2 separate regions of the Homo sapiens genome follow, and region 1 is linked to region 2. Evidence: fine-mapped QTL for protein levels in blood plasma. A gene starts in region 2. The other region holds a variant in brackets. All regions are shown on one strand. Distances are from middle to middle. Region 1 has its middle 180 kb from the start of MIR548AO. Region 2 holds the start of SFRP1 (secreted frizzled related protein 1).

What was found. PIP is the posterior inclusion probability: the model's chance that the variant is causal. Protein levels are from antibody-based Olink assays in UK Biobank. Linkage for the fine-mapping came from a reference panel and not from the study's own genotypes, which makes the PIPs less certain.
Region 1: its variant is fine-mapped to the plasma level of the SFRP1 protein (UK Biobank, PIP above 0.99).

What each region holds. Positions count from the first base shown.
Region 1 is chr8:41,088,396-41,098,883 of GRCh38, reverse strand. No RefSeq gene overlaps it. Among named protein-coding and RNA genes, the nearest start is that of MIR548AO, 180 kb to the left of the region's middle. The variant T/A (reference allele first, on the strand shown) is at 4,897.
Region 2 is chr8:41,308,502-41,318,861 of GRCh38, reverse strand. It overlaps SFRP1 (secreted frizzled related protein 1), which reads left to right and starts at 9,389. Exons shown (of 3, transcript NM_003012.5): 1 at 9,389-10,246. The coding sequence starts at 9,703. RefSeq lists enhancers at 7,222-7,749, 9,669-10,360.

The sequences.
Region 1 (10,488 bases), 220 kb after region 2:
GCAGTGACTGTAATCCACTGATAGACATCAACATACATGACCTGAAAAACGATGTTTTTCCTGATTAATGGAATAACTTATATGAAAAGTCCCACCAAGATATATAATTGAAAGATAGCTATATTACAGAAAAGGGGCCCCGATCCAGACCCCAAGAGAGGCTTCTTGGATTTCACATAAGAAAGAATTCAGGGCAAGTCCATAGAGTAAAGTGAAAACAAATTTATTAGGAAAGTAAAGGAATAAAGAATGGCTACTCCATAGACAGACAGCCTGGAGAGCTGCTGGTTGCCCATTTTTATGGTTATTTCTTGATTATATACTAAACGAGGAGTGGATTATTTATGCCTTCCCCTTTTGGACCACATAGGGTAACTTCCTGACATTGCCATGGCATTTGTACACTGTCATGGCGCTGGTGGGAGTGTAGCAGTGAGGACAGTTAGAGGTCACTCTCGTGGCCATCTTGGTTTTGGTGGGTTTTGGCTGGCTTCTTTATTGCAGCCTGCTTCATCAGCAAGGTCTTTACAACCTGTATCTTGTGCCAACCTCCTGTCTCATCCTGTGACTTAGAATGCCTTAACTGTCTGGGAATGCAGCCCAGTAGGTCTCAGCCTCAATTTACCCAGCTCCTATTCAAGATGGAGTTGCTCTGATTCACATACGTCTGACAGCTATAATGTGTCTTCTTGAAAAAAAGTAAAAATGTAAGTCAAAAATACAAAATATAAATAGTTCTTAATTTCATGCTTGGATATGTGAAATCAGAACTGGCTCATAGATTCATTGCAGATAGAAGATATTGTATAAATGGGTTCAGTACACACATGCAACAAAAGGAGTTTCTTATAAGAGCCAAAGGCCTGTCTCTTGACTCTGGTAGGCCTCCCACCCCCGCCAAGGAACACAGCCCTCCTGGCGTGGGTCACACTGACCGATGTCCCGGTACCCCCTGTCTCCCACTTCCCAGAACGATTGCTGATAAAACTCACTGGGATGTTTCTCACTGGACTGAGCCCTGATAGGATTGTACATTTTTCTTTTAATGTTACTAGAGAATGTGTGGAATGGATCAAAATTGCTTTCAGGCTTATATTGGTGAAACTTCAATGGTTTCAACCCCTTCGTCTCTTCTTTCTTCTTTATTTCAACAGCAGCCATACTGGAAAGCCCTATGGGAGGACTAAATGAGTGCCTTATCTCTTACCCCTTTCTCCACTTCCATCCTACATATAAAGCCCCTATGTGTAGATAATGGCATCAAAGCATTGGACTGGATTGGACTGGACTGGATTGGATTGGATTGGAAAATTTTGACTGACTCAGATGATGTTCTCTTAACCTATCTGGCTGGCCACAAAATTAGAAACTCAGATGGGCCAAAGGTAATAGCTGTAGAAATAAGATTTTGCAAAATACAGTGTTTTAAATCTGAAATTGCTGTGTCCATTTGGAGACCAGTGGTCTCCTCTGGACTGTATGTAACCCCTTGAGCCAGGCCTTGTCTGTTTTCTTGTCATGGTATCTCCAGGGTTCGATTCAGGGCCAGGCACTTAGTAACCAGCAAATATTGAAGAGTGACATGTCAGTGCTTAACCAGGCTCTGTGGCAAGTGCCTTATGTGCTCCATGTCCTATAACCCTCCCACCAACTCAGTGACATGGGTATTGTTATTATTCTCTTTTTACAGACAGCACAGAGAGGAGAAGCAACTTGCCCAAAGTCACACAGCAGTAAGTTAGAGCCAGAATGCAAATACAGGTATGACTTAAATACTACGCAATATTGCCCCTTAGTGGTAGGCACTGAATCCCTACTTGTTGAATGAATGAATGAGCGAACTGCGAACATATTTTAAGAGAGCTGAGATGGAGGAGGGATGGAAGGGATTTGCAAGAAAGCTGTCACGTTGGTGCAAAAGTAATTGCAGTTTTTTGTCATTAAAAGTAATGGCAATTACTTTTGCACCAACCTAATAAAACTATTTTCCACACATCTCAGCTTCCCAACTCAGTGCTGTGTGACTATGGGGGACCTCTTAGTATCTGTGGGCTCACATTCCTCTTGTTGAGAAACAGATTTGCTGAGTACTTTTTGCCAGAGGGAGTTTGGTCAACAGGAGCTAGAGAAGGGACCCAGATTCTCTAATGTTTCAACAAAGATTTAAGATACATTGGTTTAATTTAGGATTATTAAAAAATGTGTTTCTAGGCCCTGAGAAGTGGCTCACAACTGTAATCCCAGCATGTTGGGAGGCTGAGGCAGGAGAATTGCTTAAAGCCAGGAGTTTGAGACCAGCCTGGGCAATACAGTGAGACTTCATCTCTACAAAAATAAAAGTAATAAAAGTTAACTGAGTATGGTGCTCCACACCTGTAGTTCCAGTTACTCTGGAGGATGAGGCAGGAGGATTGCTTGAGCCCAGGAGTTTGAGGCTGCAGTAAGTTGTGATCACACCACTTTACTCCAGCCTTGAGCTTGTGTGATAGAATGAGACTCTGCCTCTCATTAAAAACAAAAACAAAAACAAAAACAAAAACAACAACAACAAAAAAACCTTTCCTTTTCGTTGGGGAAAGGAGGCTGGAAGGCCCAGAATAACATCTAGAGATCTTATGTTGTAGGCCACGTGCAATGGCTCACGTCTGTAATCCCAGCACTTTGGGAGGCTGAGGAGGGTGGATCACCTGAGATCAGGAGTTCGAGACCAGCCTGGCCAACATGGCGAAACCCCGTCTCTACTAAAAATACAAAAATTAACTGGGTGTGTGGTGGGCACCTGTAATCCCAGCTACTCGGGGCTGAAGCAGGAGAATCACTTGAACCTGGGAGGCAGAGGTTGCAGTGAGCCGAGATTGCACCACTGCACTCCAGCCTGGGCGACGGAGCAAGACTCCATCTCAAAAGCAAACAAGCAAACAACAAACAAACAAAAAAGCTTTCCTTTTGGTTGGGGAAAGGAGGCTGGAACACCCAGAATAACATCTAGAGATTTTATGTTGTAATATTAAGGTCTTACAAAGGATCTGTTATGGGTTGAAGTGTGTCCTCTGAAAGGTATGTTGAAGTTCTAACCATGGTACATGTGAATGGGACCTTATGTGGAAACAGGGTATTTGCAGATGTCATCATGTTAAGATGAAGTCATTAGGGTGGCCCTGATCCAATAAGACTGGTGTCCTTATAAGAAGTGGGTGAAAGAGACACACAGAGAAAACTGCTCTCCTGCCCGCAGCAGACAGAAGCAGAGGTGGGCTTATGCTGCTGCAAGCCAAGGAATGCCAGGGGCTATCAGAAGCTGGGAAAGGCAAGGAAGAGATTTTGGAGAGAACGTGGTCCTGCCAACACCTTGATTTTGGACTTCTAGCCTCCAGAACTATGAGAGAATAAATTTCTGCTGTTGTAAGCCATCCAGCCTGTGGTACATCATTGTGGCAGTCTTAGGAAACAAACACAGGTCCTAGTATGATTTTCCATTTCTGCATCATCACAATTCCTGATGATGATTTCACCTCTGCTCCCTGTGATTCTCCCCTGACTTGCTCCAAAGGATACATGCAAAGGTCAGAAGAAATGTCTTACCTGTTCACACCATCTTGAACCAGTCAGTTTTGGCAATTTAGTTTGGAATCCTTGAAGGGGCTTTTCTGGGTTCTAATACTGGCTTTAGTTCTGGCTGGCTGTGTGAGTTTGTATGTTAAAAATTAGAAAAGGAGGCCAGGTGCAGTGGCTCACATCTGTAATCCCAACACTTTGGGAGGCTAAAGTGGGAGGACTGCTTGAGCCCAGGAGTTTGAGACCCGCCTGGACAACATGATGAGAGCCCCAGCTCTAGAAAAAAATGTAAGGATATTAGCTGGGCGTGGTGACTCATGCCTGTAGTCCTAGCTTCTCCGAGGGCTCAGGGGGGTGATCGCTTGAGTCTGGGAGGTTGAGGCTGCAGTAAGCTGTGATTGTGCATCTGCACTCCAGCCTGAATGACAGAGAAAGACCTTGTCTCAAAAGGAAAAAAAAATTGAAAAATAAAAATGCTGGCCGGGCGCGGTGGCTCACGTCTGTAACCCCAGTACTTTGGGAGGCCAAGGCGGGTGGATCACAAGGTCAAGAGATTGAGACTATCCTGGTCAACATGACAAAACTCCGTCTCTACTAAAAATATGAAAATTTGCTGGGTGTGGTGGCCCGTGCCTGTAGTCCCAGCTACTTGGGAGGCTGAGGCAGGAGAATCGCTTGAACCTGGGAGGTGGAGGTTGCAGTGAGCCAAGATGGCACCACTGCATTCCAGCCTGGGCAACAGAGACAGACTCTGTCTCAAAAAAAAAAAAAAAAAAAAAAAAAGGCTAATAGTCGCATACATGGAGTACCTCCTACATGTGGGCTTCACAAGGATTTGTTCTAATCCTCTCCAGCATCCTGTAAGTTAGTTAACATTAATTCAAACGTAAAAAAAAAAAAAAAGAGAGAAGAGAAAAAAAAACAAGGGAGAAGGAGGCAGACCTGAGTTAGGCCTGTCTGACTTTCTCTGAAGCCAGTGTCCATAGCATGTGGCATCTCTAGGGAACAGATAGAAGTGAAAGAACAGAACAGGCATGGCTCAGGGGAGGAAATGTTTTGGTAATGCTGCAGTGATGAGCTGGGTCCAGCTTGCCCTGGGTCTCAAGACCCAGTTGTTAAATTTTCAGGATTTTTGCAGACAGGCTGATGTCATGTTGATAGCTTGAAATTGGCCACGGTGGGAGGATTTATACCACCAAAACAGGCAGACGCTACAAATCAGAGCTCCCACCTCTCTCACCACGTGGTTTACTGGAACTCCACTGGAACTGGAGAGAGAGAAGGGAAGCGGAGAAAAGATACCCCCAGGGCCTGGAGTCTGAGATTGGCTCAGAAGGGCCG[T/A]TGTGGTCTAGGCAGGATTCTGAAGTATTCCGGGAATGAATCCTATATAACCAAAGTTACCCGATTCCACGGGTTTAGGAAGGGCCAACCCCTCCCTGGGGAGTTGAGAGCACTCGCTGAGACCTTCTCAGTGAGTGGAGAAATAAAGTCACCAAAGCTGCACCCCTGCCCTGCCAAACTACAGCTATATGGCAGGGCAAAGAGAGCCAATGTCTGCAAGCTAGTTAAATAAACACTCTCGGCCCCAGTTCTTAATCTGTAAAATACAGGGATAATGGATCAGTGTGTCCCAAACCTGCTCCATCGTAGAGATGTGCTGTGTGTGTAAAATACACACTGGATTTCAATGTCTAAATATGAAAAAAAGATTCAAAATATCTCATTGACAATTCCTTGATTCTATGTTAAAATAATCACATTTTAAATATTGAGTTAAATAAAATATATTATGGAAATAAATTCCTCCTACCTTTTTTTATCTTTTTATTTTTATTTTTTTATTTTTTAGACTGAGTTTCGCTCTGTCGCCCAGGCTGGAGTGTAGTGGCGCGATCTCGGCTCACTGCAAGCTCTGCCTCCCGGGTTCACGCCATTCTCCTGCCTCAGCCTCCCAAGTAGCTGGGACTACAGACGCCCGCCACCACGCCTGGCTAATTTTTTTTGTATTTTTAGTAGAGACGGGGTTTCACCGTGTTAGCCAGGATGGTCTCGATCTCCCGACCTCGTGATCCGCTCGCCTCGGCCTCCCAAAGTGCTGCGATTATAGGCATGAGCCACCGCGCCCGGCCTTTTTACCTTTTAAAATGTGGCTAGTAGAAAATATAATATTGCACACATGGTTGGAGCTTTATGTCGTTTGACAGCTCTGCTCTGGAGAAGTGGTCCCTGAAGCCCCCTGTGCTGGGGGGCTCCCATCCTCCGCAGGCCTGGGTTATTCAGCTGCATTTTGCTTCCTGGAGTCACCCCACTTCTCTTTTCAGTTGATCCCAACCAGAATAGTTTGAATTGTTCGTAATCAAAGACACTTTAACGAACAGATTAACCGAACCGGAGCCTCCTCCGGTGGTTGCACAGATTGGTCCACAGAACACTTGCAGCGCTCACAGCGCGTCACGCTCCAGCGTGATCTGCCATGAACCACTCAGGATAGCATCATTTCTGCTTCCCCAGACCCTGCCGCTGCCTCTGTCCCTCAAGACATCTCTAGCTCTGGCCACCAGCACTGGATTTAAATCAAGGCGTCTGCTGGTCAGCGAGGCAAGTGAGCTCCTCAAGGTTCCGGTTCACGCTGAGGCTGTTCTTAGGAGCTGGGTTACATTATCAGAGTCTGGAATTTAGAGTAACGGCAGCTTTCTTGACTCTCCCTGAACCTAGAGGAAGGCAAGGTTTGAAGCAAAAGCAATTCCAAGAAGCAGGCATGATGTTTCTCCCTTCCCCCAGTTTCCCTTCCCTTTCCCATGGGGTAGGTCTGCCCGGGCTCAGACACCATGATCATTGTGCTCTGTGCACCCAGCCTGGGAACTCGGGCTTTGGAAATATGAATTTCCTAAGACGTTTCAGTTGTTCCAAGGTGTGAGGTGAAACTCTCACAAAAACCTGTCAAAGACTGGCTTTGGAGTTGAATTCTCAAGGTTAACTTGCTGGGGTGTACAAGAATTGTATGCCAGATTCCGAGTAATTATTCCTGCAGGAACTGCCCGCTCCAAGCACTTTAATGAAAAATGATAGAAAGGGTTATTGACCTTTGAGACATTCAATCCACCGTGCAGCTAAGCATCTGCAGAGGATCAGGCCAGGGAAGATTACATCTGCCCCACTGCAGAGACATTGCAACAGTTCATCTTCAAAACAGGCAAGGAAAATGTGTCTAATGAATCCCTAAAGCACAGTATGTGCAGATGGGTTTGAAATGGTCTTTGGCAATTTTTCACCTTCATTGTAATGGGAATCCCTTGGAAACAAGCTAGAGATCATATGTAAATTTGACTGGCTACACTTTACAACATTCTTGGGAGGACTAGGAGTAAGATGATAAATGAAGACGTTGCGAAGTTCATAATTTGGGAGAGAAACTCATTAAAATGTTAAAAATGAGCTACATATACCCTGTTCAGGGGAACTGCACGATGTAATAAAATGAAATAAGCCTCTAATATGCTCCATATTGCTCCGTGGTGAGCAGAAGGCAAGCCTGAGACACAGATCCTTCCCTCTGGATGCTTGCAGTTGAGTTGGTTGTTGAGACAAGGCTTAAATACACGACACTGCGTCTCAAAGTCTGACAGCCCCAGCTGGATGACAAAGAGCCATCTGATGGTTAAATGAGAGTGGAGGGAATGGGCGGCAAGAACAGAAACCAGTTTCCAGGGTGTTTCTGTTGCTTTCAATGTTTTTTTTTTTTTGAGACTGAGTCTTGATCTATCACCCAGGCTGGAGTTCAATGGCGTGATCTTGGCTCACTGCAACCTCTGCCTCCTGGGTTCAAGCGATTCTCCTGCCTCAGCCTCCCAAGTAGCTGGGATTACAAGCATGTGCCACCACGCCTGGCTAATTTTTGTATTTTTAGTAGAGACAGGGTTTCACCATGTTGGCCAGGCTGGTATCGAACTCCTGACTTCAAGTGATCCACCTGCCTCTACCTCCCAAATTGTTAGGATCACAGGCGTGAGCCACCATGCCTGGCTGTTGTCAATGTTTTAAAGGCAGTTAATATCTTCATCCCCAAACTTCACTCCTGTCCCATCGCTTTGCCTTATCCTCCCTTCACAGGGGTAATCACTACACTGAGATTGGAGTATTTTCTCTCAGGTCAGTTTTTATAGTTTTATTACATATGTTTAAATAAAGAGTTAAAGCAAATGTGACAAAATGTGAACACTTGATAAATCTGGACAGTGAGCATTTGGTTTTATGTTTTATCATCTTTTTTGTATTTATGTATCCTTGAAATTTTTTTCTTTTTTGAGATGGAGTCTCCCACTGTCGCCCGAGCTGGAGTGCAATGGCATGATCTTGGCTCACTGCAACCTCCACCTCTCAGGTTCAAGCGATTCTCCTGCCTTTGCCTCTTGAGTAGCTGGGATTACAGGCACCCGCCACCACGCCTGGCTAATTTTTTGTATTTTTAGTAGAGAAGTTGGTTGGCCAGGCTGGTCTCGAACTCCTGACGTCATGATCCACCTGCCTCAGCCTCCCAAAGTGCTGGGATTACAGGGGTTAGTCACTCTGCGTGGCTGGAATTTTTTTCAAATCTTAAAGATTATATGAGCTTCTATATAGTAGAAGCAGAAAAAAATTGTAAATAAATTTTATGGACAATGTGTAACAACAAAATTAAAAACCCAAAAGAAAGAAAGGAAGAAGAAGAAGGAATGGAAGAAACAAAGAAAGAGAAAGAACTTGAGATCTCTAAGAATTCATAGGTCACTTTGCATGGAGATAGTCAGCAAAGACTGCCAAGAGGAGGAAGTATGACCCAGGTCTTGAGAAATGGAGATGTGGGAGGAGGGCCTGAAAGGGAGGGGAGTCGCCATTTAGAGCAACTCTTATCTGTAACCTGAGGAGACGAGACTGTGAGCTCTAAAGTTCACATTCAAATCTCACAGCATATATCATGTTCATTGATTCAATCCACAAACAGTAGACAGTTACCACATGCAGTAAATAATGCTAGACACTGTAGGAGATTCCAGGATGAGAATATGGTAGGTGGTCTCCCTCCTGGAATCACCATTTTGATTTTCATCATCCTTAAACAGGAAGAATTTACTGTCACTTTTTCCCTGTCTGCCTGCTTGTCTGCCTGCCTTTCTATTGAGAGCCCTGTCTATTCCATTTCATTCTAAATTTCTTTCAGATGAGAGCTATTTCTCATATCTATCTGCATCCTCCACAGTGTCAAGATAGGATTATACAATTAAGTGGGTATTCATTAAATACTCATTGAATAATTGATTAACTTGATTGTTTAAGTAGTATTTGAGAGGCTATTATGTTCTAAAGCACACAAGGGAACACTCTGGAGATCAAAGATAAAATAAAAGGGATATATTAGTTAACTGATTGCATTAAAAGACACATATACATGTGTCTTTTACAATACAGATCCTGGCCGCTGTTAAATATAATTCAGGCTGGGTGTGGTGGCTCCTGCCTGTAACCCCAGCACTTTTGGAGGCTGAGGTGGGAGACGATAACAAGAGCCCAGGGATTCAAGATCAGCTTGGGCAACATAGCAAGACCTCATCTCTACAAAACATTAAAAAATTAGCTGAGAGTGGTGGCATGCACCTGTAGTTCCAGCTACTAGATAGGCAGAGGTGGGAAGACTTAAGATGCTTGAGCCGGGGAGGCAGAGATTTGCAGTGAGCTGAGATCACACCACTGTACTCCAGCGTGGGTGAAAGAGCAAGACCCTACCTCAAAAAAAAAATAAAAAAAAAATCAGTATTCTATTTATAGACAACCACACCTTGGATATTGTGGGTTCAGTTCCAGACCACCATAATAAAGAGAATAACACAATAAAGTGAGTCACATGAATTTTTTTGGTTTCCTAGTGCTTATAAAATTTATGTTCACATTACATTGCAGTCAATTAAGTGTGCAATAGCATTATGTCTAAAAAACACCGTATAATCCTAATTTAAAAATATTTTGTTGCTAAGAAATGCTAGTGATCATCTGAACCTTCAGCGAGCTGTAATCTTTTTGCTAGTGGAGGGTCTTGCCTTGATGTTGATGGCTGCTGACTGATCAGGATGGTGATAGCTGAAGTTTGGGGTGGCTGTGACAATTTCTTAAAATAAGACAGCAATGAAGTTTAGCACATTAATTGGCTCTTCCTTTCACAAAAGATTTCTCTGTAGCATTCGATGTTGTTTTATAGCATTTTACCACCAGAAAATTGGATTCAATTCTTTCAAACCCCGCTGCTGCATTATCAACTAAGTTTATGGAATATTCTAAAACCTTTGTTGTCATTTCAACAATGTTCACAGAATCTTTACTCCATGGAATCACCAGGAGTTGATTCCATCTCAATAAACCACTTTCTGGCCAGGCACAGTGAGCAGATCACCTGAAGTCCGGAGTTCAAGACCAGCCTGGCCAAAATGGCGAAACCCCATCTCTACTAAAAGTACAAAAATTAGCCGGGCGTGGTGGCGGGTGCCTGTAATTCTAGCTACTTAAGAGGCTAAGGCAGGAGAATTGCTTGAACCTGGGAGATGGAGGTTTCAGTGAGTCGAGATCGCGCCACTGCATTCCATCCTGGGTGACAGAGTGAGACTCCATCTCAAAAAAAAAAAAAAAAAAAGAAACCACTTTCTTTGCTCATCTATAAGAAGCAACCTCCTCATCTGTTAAAGCTCTATCATGAGAGTGCAGCAATTCAGTCACATCTTCAGACTCCACTTCTAATTCTAGTTCTCTTACTATTTCTACCACATCCACAATAACTTCTTCTACTGAAGTCTTACACCTCTTAAAGTCATCCATGAGGGTTGGAATCAACCTCTCCCAAACTCCAGTTAATGTTGATATTTTGTCCTCATCTTATGAATTATGAGTGTTCTTAATGACATCTAGGAT
Region 2 (10,360 bases):
GGTGGGCGGCGGGTGGGCTGAGTGTCTGCATTTCTGTTAAGGTCCTAGAAGATGCTGATGCTGCTGGTCTGGGGACCACATTTTGAGTAGCAAAGTCTTAGGAGACAGTAAAAATTAGAACCTGCAGTCTTTGAGCTTCCTGCCTATTGTGAGAATTACATACCTGTGCCAGTGAGGTTTGGTTTTAGCTGCATGAAAGAGAAAATCAAAATGACTTTGGATTTAAGCAAGTGAGGGAGACAGATTATAGGTCTCCCCAGTGAGAATCCCCAGGTGGGCAGTGCAGGGCTGGTGCAGGGACTCCTTGAGACCCAGGTTCTTTCCTTCTGCTCCACCATACTGGTCTGCTGGCATTCATCCTCATGGTTGCCAGAGAGCTGCTGTACCTCAGGCATCACAGCTAAATTCCAGGTGGGAAGCAGAGGGAAGAGGCAAAATCTCTAAGGCTATCTTTCTTATGATGTGCTCCAGGGTGCCACACTTACCAACTTCTACCTCCTTCTCACTGGCCAGAGCTGGCTTGAGATTTGCATTTCTAACAAGTTCCCAGAAGATGCTGGTGCTGCTGGTCTGCGGACCACACTTGGAGGAGCAAAGTTGTAGGAGACAGTAAAAATTAGAATCATCTGTCATGGAGGTTCTAATTTTTAGTAGCCCCCCTCGGACCTACTCAATCATAATTTGCATTTTAACAAGATTCCTAGGTGAATCCAATGCCTATTTAAGACTGAGGAAACCCATCTTGAGCAACTCTTCCACATACCGGGAAGTTTGACACCTTCCTCCTGTTCCAGTTCCTAGGTTGCAGGACACCCTTTCTCCAGGAGGCCCCAGTTTGTCTCATCCATGCACCCACATTGCTCTGCATCCCTCTGTTTAGCCTCCTACTGGAAGGGTCCTATGAACCCCCACTTTTTCCATTTATTTTTATTTATTTAATTTTTGTTTTAGAAGGAGTCTTGCTCTGTTGCCCAGGCTGGAGTGCAGTGGTGCGATCTCGGCTCATTGCAACCTCTGTCTCCCAGGTTCAAGTGATTCTCCTGCCTCAGCCTCCCGAGTAGCCGGAATTACAGGCACCTGCCACCACACCTGGATAATTTTTGTATTTTTAGTAGAGACGGGGTTTTGCCATGTTGCCCAGGCTGGTCTTGAACTCCTGACCTTGGGTGATCCACCTGCCTCAGCCTCCCAAAGTGCTGGGATTACAGGTGTGAGCCACTGCGCCTGGCAGAACCCCTACTTTTCAGAAGAGGAGACAAGTCACAGAGTGGTTCCTCAGGTGCCCTAAGTACAGAGTATTGAGACAATCAAATGAAAAAGATGAGTCTTGAGACGGTGATTTGCTCAGCAATCACATGACTACTGCACACCTACCATGTGGCAGGCACTAGAGATACAAATACAAAAAAGATACAGATTCTGTCTTCAAGAAGCTTCTAGAACTCCGGACATGCAAACATGCAAAACAAGAAGAGTGGTGCTCTGACAGCCATGATGTACAGGGAGACTGGGGAGAGACCAGGCAGATGAAGCCCATTAGCCAAACCTGAGATGTGTGCTGGGAAGACGGCCCAGCTTGTGGGGGCAGCGTGAGCTCTGCACAGAGGCTGGAGGCTATGAATTCCCCCACACTGGGACCCCACTGGCATGCACCTGTCAGGCTGCAAAGGAGGTTTTTTTTGTCTGCATGCAATCTGATTGGTTGGTGCCATGCCATATTGGGCTTTCTATATACACATATATATTATGTTATAAAATATATATAATATAAAATACATATATATTTTATATTAAACAATCTTTATTTGGAAAATAGTACCTTACAGTCCTAATGCTATCTATCAAACATCAATGACAGCAATTTCAGCAGGAACTAATGAACAGTAGCTAAACTAACAGGGGATCCATCAAAAGTGCTTTAAAGGGAGGAGCACCGGCTGACGTTGTGCCGAGTCTCTGGGCATTCAGGACTTGGTTATGGGAAAACAGAATCAAACTGGCAGGTGCTCTGGACCCAAACCCTGGCATTGTGACCCGCCTCCCTCCTGGGAGCCCTGAAGGCTCACAGTCCCCCTGGCACTTCCAGGCCCCTGTGGGCTGTGGGTGGAGCCCTAGGGGCCAAAGTGCCACTCAGGAAAGCCTGAAACGGCCTTGGAGTCAGCCAGCTTCTGCCTGTTGTGGCCATTTTCTTTCTGGAGCACCTGCAGCGCTCTCTCAGTGGGCTCAGTGGCCATCCAGCCTTCCTGGGACATTTTCTCATAGAAAAGGATCTCTCTCTCTCTGAAAACTGAAAGTGTCTTTCTTCAATTCCTGGGCCACGTCTCAGGCCATCTTCTTGTAGCGGTCACGGGTCTGACATGCGTGGCTCACGTTTTTGTGCACCTTGTACAGTCTCTGGTGGAGGTCCAGGAAGAGAGCCTGGTAAATGAATGGACAATCAGATGTTGCTGGCTGCAAGGGCTCTCCAGGTTTCTCTCCCCAGGGACTGGCCTTCAGCAAAGCCAGGTCTACTGCAAAGCCAGCAGGATTTGGAGTCCAAAGATCTGTGCTTCCTGACCTGCGACTGGCCTCCACCACAGTGCTTTGGTGGCTGGACTGCTAGTCAGGGTCCCACTACCCTGAGCTTCTGTATCTTCTTCTGTCAAATGAAAGTAATGAACTTCTCAGCCAGCTCAGAAGCTTTTGGTGAGGCCCAAATGCCATAATGCATGCAGAGAGCAAATCGGAAAAGACTGCAGCAAGGCATCTTCCTATGCGACAGGGGATTCTGCCTTCGCCCAGGTGAGTAATGCCCCTTAAATGGCAGATGGCAGATGTGTTATTCAGGCTGAGAGAGACTGTGGGGAGGAGGCTTGCCTGGATGGAGACTTGGAGGCGAGGCTTCCCCAGCTGAGGTTACCAGTTCTTGGGAGCAGGGAAGGCTTTCCTGCCAGGCAGGAGTGTGATGATGGGCACTCCCCCGTTCCTCTCGCTAGCACCTCATTTATATCCGGCTTGCTCCAGGCTCAATCCCCCAATGAAGGCTATGCACCGTCTGGCTCCACTGCCTTGAAGGGTTAGGTAAATAAGCACATGGCTCCTCGGGGAATGTGTCCCGGCGCTGGGCCGCTGCCCTCCCCGCAGCCATCCCGGCAGATTTATGGGCTTCAGGTCACTGAAGCATGTGCCACTTCACTTTCACTTGCCTGGGATTCCCAGAGGGGCAGGGGCTTCCTAAAGACCTGTGTCTGGTGCTCTGTGATGTCCCAGCCAAGCCTTGAGCCCCGTCGCCAGGATCCGACTCCAGGTGTCACACTGTGGAGCCCCCTTCTACCTTCTCTTGCTCCCCAGTCCCCACCCCCACTTGGCATACAAGGCTCCCAGAAACTCTAGCCTCCCAGATGCCAGCTCCTGTTTTTATACAGCATTGTGTGAGGATTTGTGGGAATGGGCCACTGCATTGACCAACCCACCCTCCATGGAGCCACCTGCTCGGTGCAAGCCCTGGGGAGAGAGGAGTGAATCGGATGTGGCATCTGTCCACAGGGTCAGCTCTGGGATGGGAAGAGATCCAATAAAGAAGTCCCACACTATGTTTGCTGTCCTTGTATAAGGCACTGATGATCAGTTCCCTTAGGATTCAGATCTAGAAAAGATTTTCCTTTTTCAAAGACAAAGAGAACGATGGGAGCTATTCATGCTGGCGTATTACCTTTGTTCTCAGAAAACATCGCACAAAATCAATGTGCAAGGGTAGCACCCCTAAGAACCTGGGTATTTCACATGTCTGTCTCCCCTTTATTTGTTTGTTGGGGTGGGCGTAATTATTGAGCACTCAGTATATGCATGGCATTGTACTAGATGCTGGAGATGTGGAATGGGTAAGACAAAATAAGACAAGGTCCTGGCCTCTAAGAGCTCACTGCACTGTACGATGTACATGGAAGGGACCAGTTATAAATGTACACGGAGTGTCTGCAGGCACAGAGTGGGTGAATCTGACTAGGGATGGAGGAGGTCAGGCCTGGCTTCCTGGAGGAGACAACATTGTTAGGATAAGTGGGTGGATTTGCCAGATAAAATATATGATGCCCAGTAAACTGAATTTCAGTTCAACAATGAATAATTTATAGTATATGTATGTCTCAGGTAATATTTGAGACACACTTAATAAGTTTTTTCTTGTTGATCTGGAATTCAAATTTTACTGGATGTTCTATTTTTTAATATTTAAATTTAATTTTTATTTTTAAAGACAGGGTGCCATTCTGTCACCCAAGCTGGAGTGCAGTGGTATGATCATAGCTCACTGCAGCCTCCAACTCCTGGGCTCAAGCGATCCTCCTGCCTCAGCCTCCTAAGTAGCTGGGACTACCGGCACGTACCACTGTGCCTGTAGCTAATTCTTAATCAGCTAATTCTTAAAATTCTTAAAATTGTGCCTAATCAGATAATTCTTAAAAATTATTATTATGTGTAGAAACAGGGTCTTGCTATGTTGCCCGGGCTGGTCTCAAACTCCTGGCCTCAAGCAATCCTCCTGCCTTACTTTCCCTAAGTGCTGGGATTACAGGTATGAGCCACTGTGCCTGGCCATGGGTGTCCTGTATTTTTATTTGTAAATCTGGAAACCCTATGAGTAGTAGTTTGTACAAAAGTAGTGAAAGGCATTACAGATAGAGAAAACAGCATGTGCACACAGCATGAGCCCAGGATGAGAGGCAAGCGAGAAGCCATTGGGTGGGAAAGTGCAAGTACTTCTGGAGACTGGAAACTAGGCTGGTGGGGGGTGCTGGGGAGGTGAAGCTGGAGAGGTCATGGGGGTCAGGGCTGAGTCTTGATACTATCCTGGAGGTTGGGCTTTTTCCTGTGGACAAAGAGTGTGTGAGAATTTTAATCAGAGAAATAGTCCATTTGATATTTTTATTTCTATTTAAAAAGTCATCTTAAAATATGCCTTTTATTTTTAGTTCTCTTCTTTCTAAGAGGTGGTATACAAGTCTTCATTTATTTATATAAAAATTATATTTATAGGCATGAATATATTTATAATATAAATTATAAATTAATTAATGTAGTAATAAATGAACAAAAATTGTCAAGCCCAGTTTGACAGAACCTCGCCTGGAGAGTGGGCAGGTGTGACTGTCTGAGTGGAGGGGCGGGGACGGTGACCTTGGCCTCCCAGTTTGGGGCTCCGCTGAGGGTGTCTTCCTGGCTGCTTACGATAGGAACTGATCCTAGGATGGCCTAGTAAGAAATTACAGGGAGCAGAGTTTCCCTTCAAGGAAGGAAGAACATTCTAGTGGATTGTCTGAACTTGGTGACTATATCCCAAACAAATAAAAGGGATGCTCCGTTAGCTTCTGTCAAGAATGGTGCAGAGGACTGGGTGCGGTGGCTCACCCCTGTAATCCCAACACTCTGGGAGGCTGAGACAGGAGGATTGCTTGGGGCTAGGAGTTCAAAACCAGCCTGGATAACATAGCAAAATCCCATTGCTCAAAAAAAAAAAAAAAAAAAAAAAAAAAAAAAAGCTAGGTGTGGTGGCCTGCATCTGGAGTCCCAGCTACTTGGGAGGCTGAGGTGGCAGGATTGCCTGAGCCCAGGAGGTCAAGGCTGCAGTGAGCCAAGGTCCTGCCACTGCGCTCCAGCCTGGGGAACAGAGTGAGACTCTGTATCAAAAAAAAAAAAAAAAAAAAGATGAAGAGGTAGGGGTGCTTACTCTAAGAAGAGATGAAGAGATGGGGCTGGAATTTGCCTTCAACTCCAAATTTTTAAGATGCTTCCCAGACATTCCCAGACTTCAGTTAGCAGGTCAGGCCAGTTCTTTAAAGAGTTAGAAAGGATCAGGATTACACATCTACAGAGGCAGAATGCAGAAGAAGCTTGTCCAAGTAAGAGCATGACCAGGTTTCAAGGCATCTGACAACGAATACCACTTTGGCCCCTTCAGACTTGCCTGGAAGTCTAAGGATGTGCCTCGAGTGACCCTACATGCTGAGAATTCACACTTCTGAGCTAGCAGGGCAGCCGGGCAGGCATTAATAGCTCTGTTTCACAGATGAGAACACTAAGACCAGAGAGAGGAAGTGCGATTCCCATGAGTCGCCCAGCCAGTTAGGAGCAGAGCTGAGGCTGTAGCCTGTGTCCACTGACTGTGGGCCAGCATGCTTTCCTTGGCATTGCCCCTGACCCACAGATACCCAGCTTCAGGCGGGAGCTCCCTCCCTAGTGCTGCTGGCTGAGGGAGAGCGAGCTGAATGTATCTTTGGAGAGGATGGCAGACATCACTGATGATATGATAGTGGAACACAATGGGAGCTGTGGCTGGGAAGGCTCCCCTCCCAGTTTTTCCAGGAGAAGCCAGGAAAAAGCTCTGCGTGTGGGAAGAGGCCACCTGGGAGGCACCTGGGGGGGCCCTCTGTGACCCTCTGTGGAGGCTGAAGAACTGAGAATGCCTCCTGAAGCTGGTGTTTTGAAGCAACAGAGGACGAACTTTCAGGCTTCATGCATGGGCATCTAGCAGTGTGGGAAAAGCAGAACTTCTGGGAAATGAGAAACATAAGTTAAAGCTGCATTTTGCCTCTGTTTATTTAAGCCATTCAAAAAGGAGGGAGGATATGTCTCCTGGCCCACAGTTCTCATACTCAGGAACCCTCATATCTGGGAGCTCTGTCATGTCAGTTGCATGTTTAAAGGGCCTTTGTTCTAGAACCTTCTGCTGTACACACAGGAGTGCGTGCACACACAAACACACACACACTTGCCATTAGGAAAAGGGGGACTGGATTTTGAAGTGCAAAGAGTTGACAATAAGTAAAAGGACAAAAGTACTGTATGTACCTCTGCAATACAAAGTCTTCAGGCTGTTCTGCCTGGTGCTGTTATGCAGCATGTGAATTTCCCGAGAGGACGGGGGGCGGGTGGTCCCTCTCCCACATCCCAGGAATGGATTAAAGTCTCTCGGTGGGACTGAGGTCTTAGGGTCCTTCCTTTCCAGCTGGGTCTGGGAGGAGTCAGGAGTGCACTGGATTTAGGATTTGGGGTCTTCTCCCATCACTCCCTGTTCCACGGAGAGACAACTGTGTTCCCAGCAGGGGTCAGTAAAGCAGTAGGACCACTAGGGGTGAGTGGGGGAGGTGGTGACTGGAGGTGATCAAAGTCTACTCGGAGTGACCAGACATAGGCGAGGTCTTCCCCTGAATGGATTTGTGAGATTTACTCCTGACTTGGGACTTCCAGGGCAGTCACCTGGACGAATTTCCAGCATTTAACCGTGGACAGACACAAGTCCTCCTGCCATTCGGGAAAACTGAAAACGTGAGTGAGCGGTCAGCTAAGCCTGGGTTCAGAGGTGAGAGGATGTTATCTGCAAACATCCATCTTTGCAGTGAGCAAACAGACGCATTTGGCTTGAGGTGGAGGGCCTGGCCCTAGGAGACAAAAAGACCCCCTACCAAACAGCATTTTTCTCTAAATGCCCCTTGAATTGAGACACAGTTGCCGGGTCTCCTGCGGTCTTATTCTCTGTGAGGAATGTCTTCCTCAGCTCCACAGGCCGGCCTCACCAATTGTCTTGGGATTAACCCTTGGCCATCCCGATCTTGCTCTCTCTTCTCTGTGTTTTCCTTCCAGCCTCCATGTCACCTTTTGAGTGTCAAGGCATCTTCCATTGGCCACGAAATGACAGAGAAGTCATCCATCTGCAGAAGCCTCCTGTGTGCACCGTGGAATCACCGTGTCTGTACGGGCACGAATGCTTTAAGAAAACAGCCCTGCTTCTTCACAAACTCTAGTCATTTCACTTGGAATCTGTCCATCAAGAAATTAGGTTTGCAGAGTCCAAAGCAAGCTCCCTAGAGCTTTACAAACAAGCTGGCGGGCAAGGCAGCGCGCCCTATAGTGTCTCTGTGGAGCGCTAAGATCTGTGACCCCTTTGCCACATGGGGTGTGCGCTCAGACTGGGCTATGAATATATCAGCCTCTCTCCACCCGCACTTAGGGACAGAAGATATGGAGACTCCAGGAACTTCATGAACTATTTGCTGTGGTCTTCTGTCCCGGGATAGTCCGGGTCTCACTCCCAGCTCTCCAGAGCTTAACCCTCCCTCTCAGGGGAATGTTTGAAACCTACGAAGAATTCTCAGGAATTCGAGGTAGAAGGTGGCAGAGAGACTTCTGTTCCTGGGGGCCGAGCTGTTGTGCTGATACCGTCCTCTTGGCGTCTGCCCTAGTGGGGACCCTTGATTTTAACTTGAAGTTCCTGGACTGGGTCTAACCTTAGCATGTGTGCCTGAGTGATGGACTTGGTATTTACACCAGCCACGCTGATAAGTGCACATGTGTTTTTAATGTTTTGGCTTTCCACACCACAAACACACAGATGTGCTGTCGCCCGGGCTAGGACTTGAGTAGGGTTTTTCTATTTAAATATATATTATATATTTAAAAAAGTGTCCTCCCAGAGCTAATACCGTTGCTAGCAGCTCTTCCTGCCGCCACACCGGGCAAAGTCCACCCACTGCCCCAGTGTTGAGGGCCACCATGGGCGGCCCCACCTGGAGAGGTGCTGCTCACAGCAAACAGCTCCAACTGCGCCTTCGCCTCGCCTTCCAGGGAGCCCAGCCAGGCCCACTGGGTATTTACAAGCAGACCTCCCTCGCTTCAGCCTTCCTGAACCCCTGTTAGTTGGGAAACCACCTGTCTGCACCGCAGCTAGAGAACCGAGGAGAGGAGCCGCTAGTCTAAAGGGCTGTTGGTTGAAATTAGGAAGCAGTGTAAAGAAAAAGAAAAAAAAAGTTTGGGAGGCCAAGGCAGGAGCATCACCTGAGGTCAGGAGTTCGAGACCAGCCTGGCTAACATGGTGAAACCCCGTCTCTACTAAAAATACAAAAAATTAGCGGGGGCATGGTGGCACGCGGCTGTAATCCCAGCTACTCGGGAGGCTGAGGCAGGAGAATCGCTTGAACCCGGGAGGCGGAGGTTGCAGTCAGCGGAGATAGCGCCATTGCACTCCAGCTTAGGCAACAAGAGCGAAACTGTCTCAAAAAAAAAAAGTCTTCATAATTTCATGGGTTTGCAAGTATGATCCAGGCTCCCCGCTTCTCTGCAAGCCAATGCGAGTTAATTACAGCGTCCGCCCTGGTCTCTCTCCACCCCACGCCGTGATCCATTCCCCTTCTTTTTCTCCCCTTGTCTCTTTCCTCCTCCCCCTTTTATTTATGTATTTTTGGTTTTGTTTTTTAAGGGGTGTTGAGCCGCGTCTGGTTCTAGTAAACCGAACCCGCTCGCGAGGGAGGCGATTGGCTCCCGCGCCGGTGACGGACGTGGTAACGAGTGCGGCTCGCCCCGCCGGGAGCTGATTGGCTGCGCGGGGCGGCTCCGAGGGCTCGGCCGTAGGAGCCCCGCGCACTCCAGCCCTGCAGCCTCCGGAGTCAGTGCCGCGCGCCCGCCGCCCCGCGCCTTCCTGCTCGCCGCACCTCCGGGAGCCGGGGCGCACCCAGCCCGCAGCGCCGCCTCCCCGCCCGCGCCGCCTCCGACCGCAGGCCGAGGGCCGCCACTGGCCGGGGGGACCGGGCAGCAGCTTGCGGCCGCGGAGCCGGGCAACGCTGGGGACTGCGCCTTTTGTCCCCGGAGGTCCCTGGAAGTTTGCGGCAGGACGCGCGCGGGGAGGCGGCGGAGGCAGCCCCGACGTCGCGGAGAACAGGGCGCAGAGCCGGCATGGGCATCGGGCGCAGCGAGGGGGGCCGCCGCGGGGCAGCCCTGGGCGTGCTGCTGGCGCTGGGCGCGGCGCTTCTGGCCGTGGGCTCGGCCAGCGAGTACGACTACGTGAGCTTCCAGTCGGACATCGGCCCGTACCAGAGCGGGCGCTTCTACACCAAGCCACCTCAGTGCGTGGACATCCCCGCGGACCTGCGGCTGTGCCACAACGTGGGCTACAAGAAGATGGTGCTGCCCAACCTGCTGGAGCACGAGACCATGGCGGAGGTGAAGCAGCAGGCCAGCAGCTGGGTGCCCCTGCTCAACAAGAACTGCCACGCCGGCACCCAGGTCTTCCTCTGCTCGCTCTTCGCGCCCGTCTGCCTGGACCGGCCCATCTACCCGTGTCGCTGGCTCTGCGAGGCCGTGCGCGACTCGTGCGAGCCGGTCATGCAGTTCTTCGGCTTCTACTGGCCCGAGATGCTTAAGTGTGACAAGTTCCCCGAGGGGGACGTCTGCATCGCCATGACGCCGCCCAATGCCACCGAAGCCTCCAAGCCCCAAGGTAAGGCTGCCTCCTCCCACGTGCGCGAGCCGCCCCCTCCATCCCCCGGCCGGAGCTGCAGGAGAACCCGCGCCACCCTACGCCCGCCCGCCGCTGGGTCCCGGTGCTGGGGAC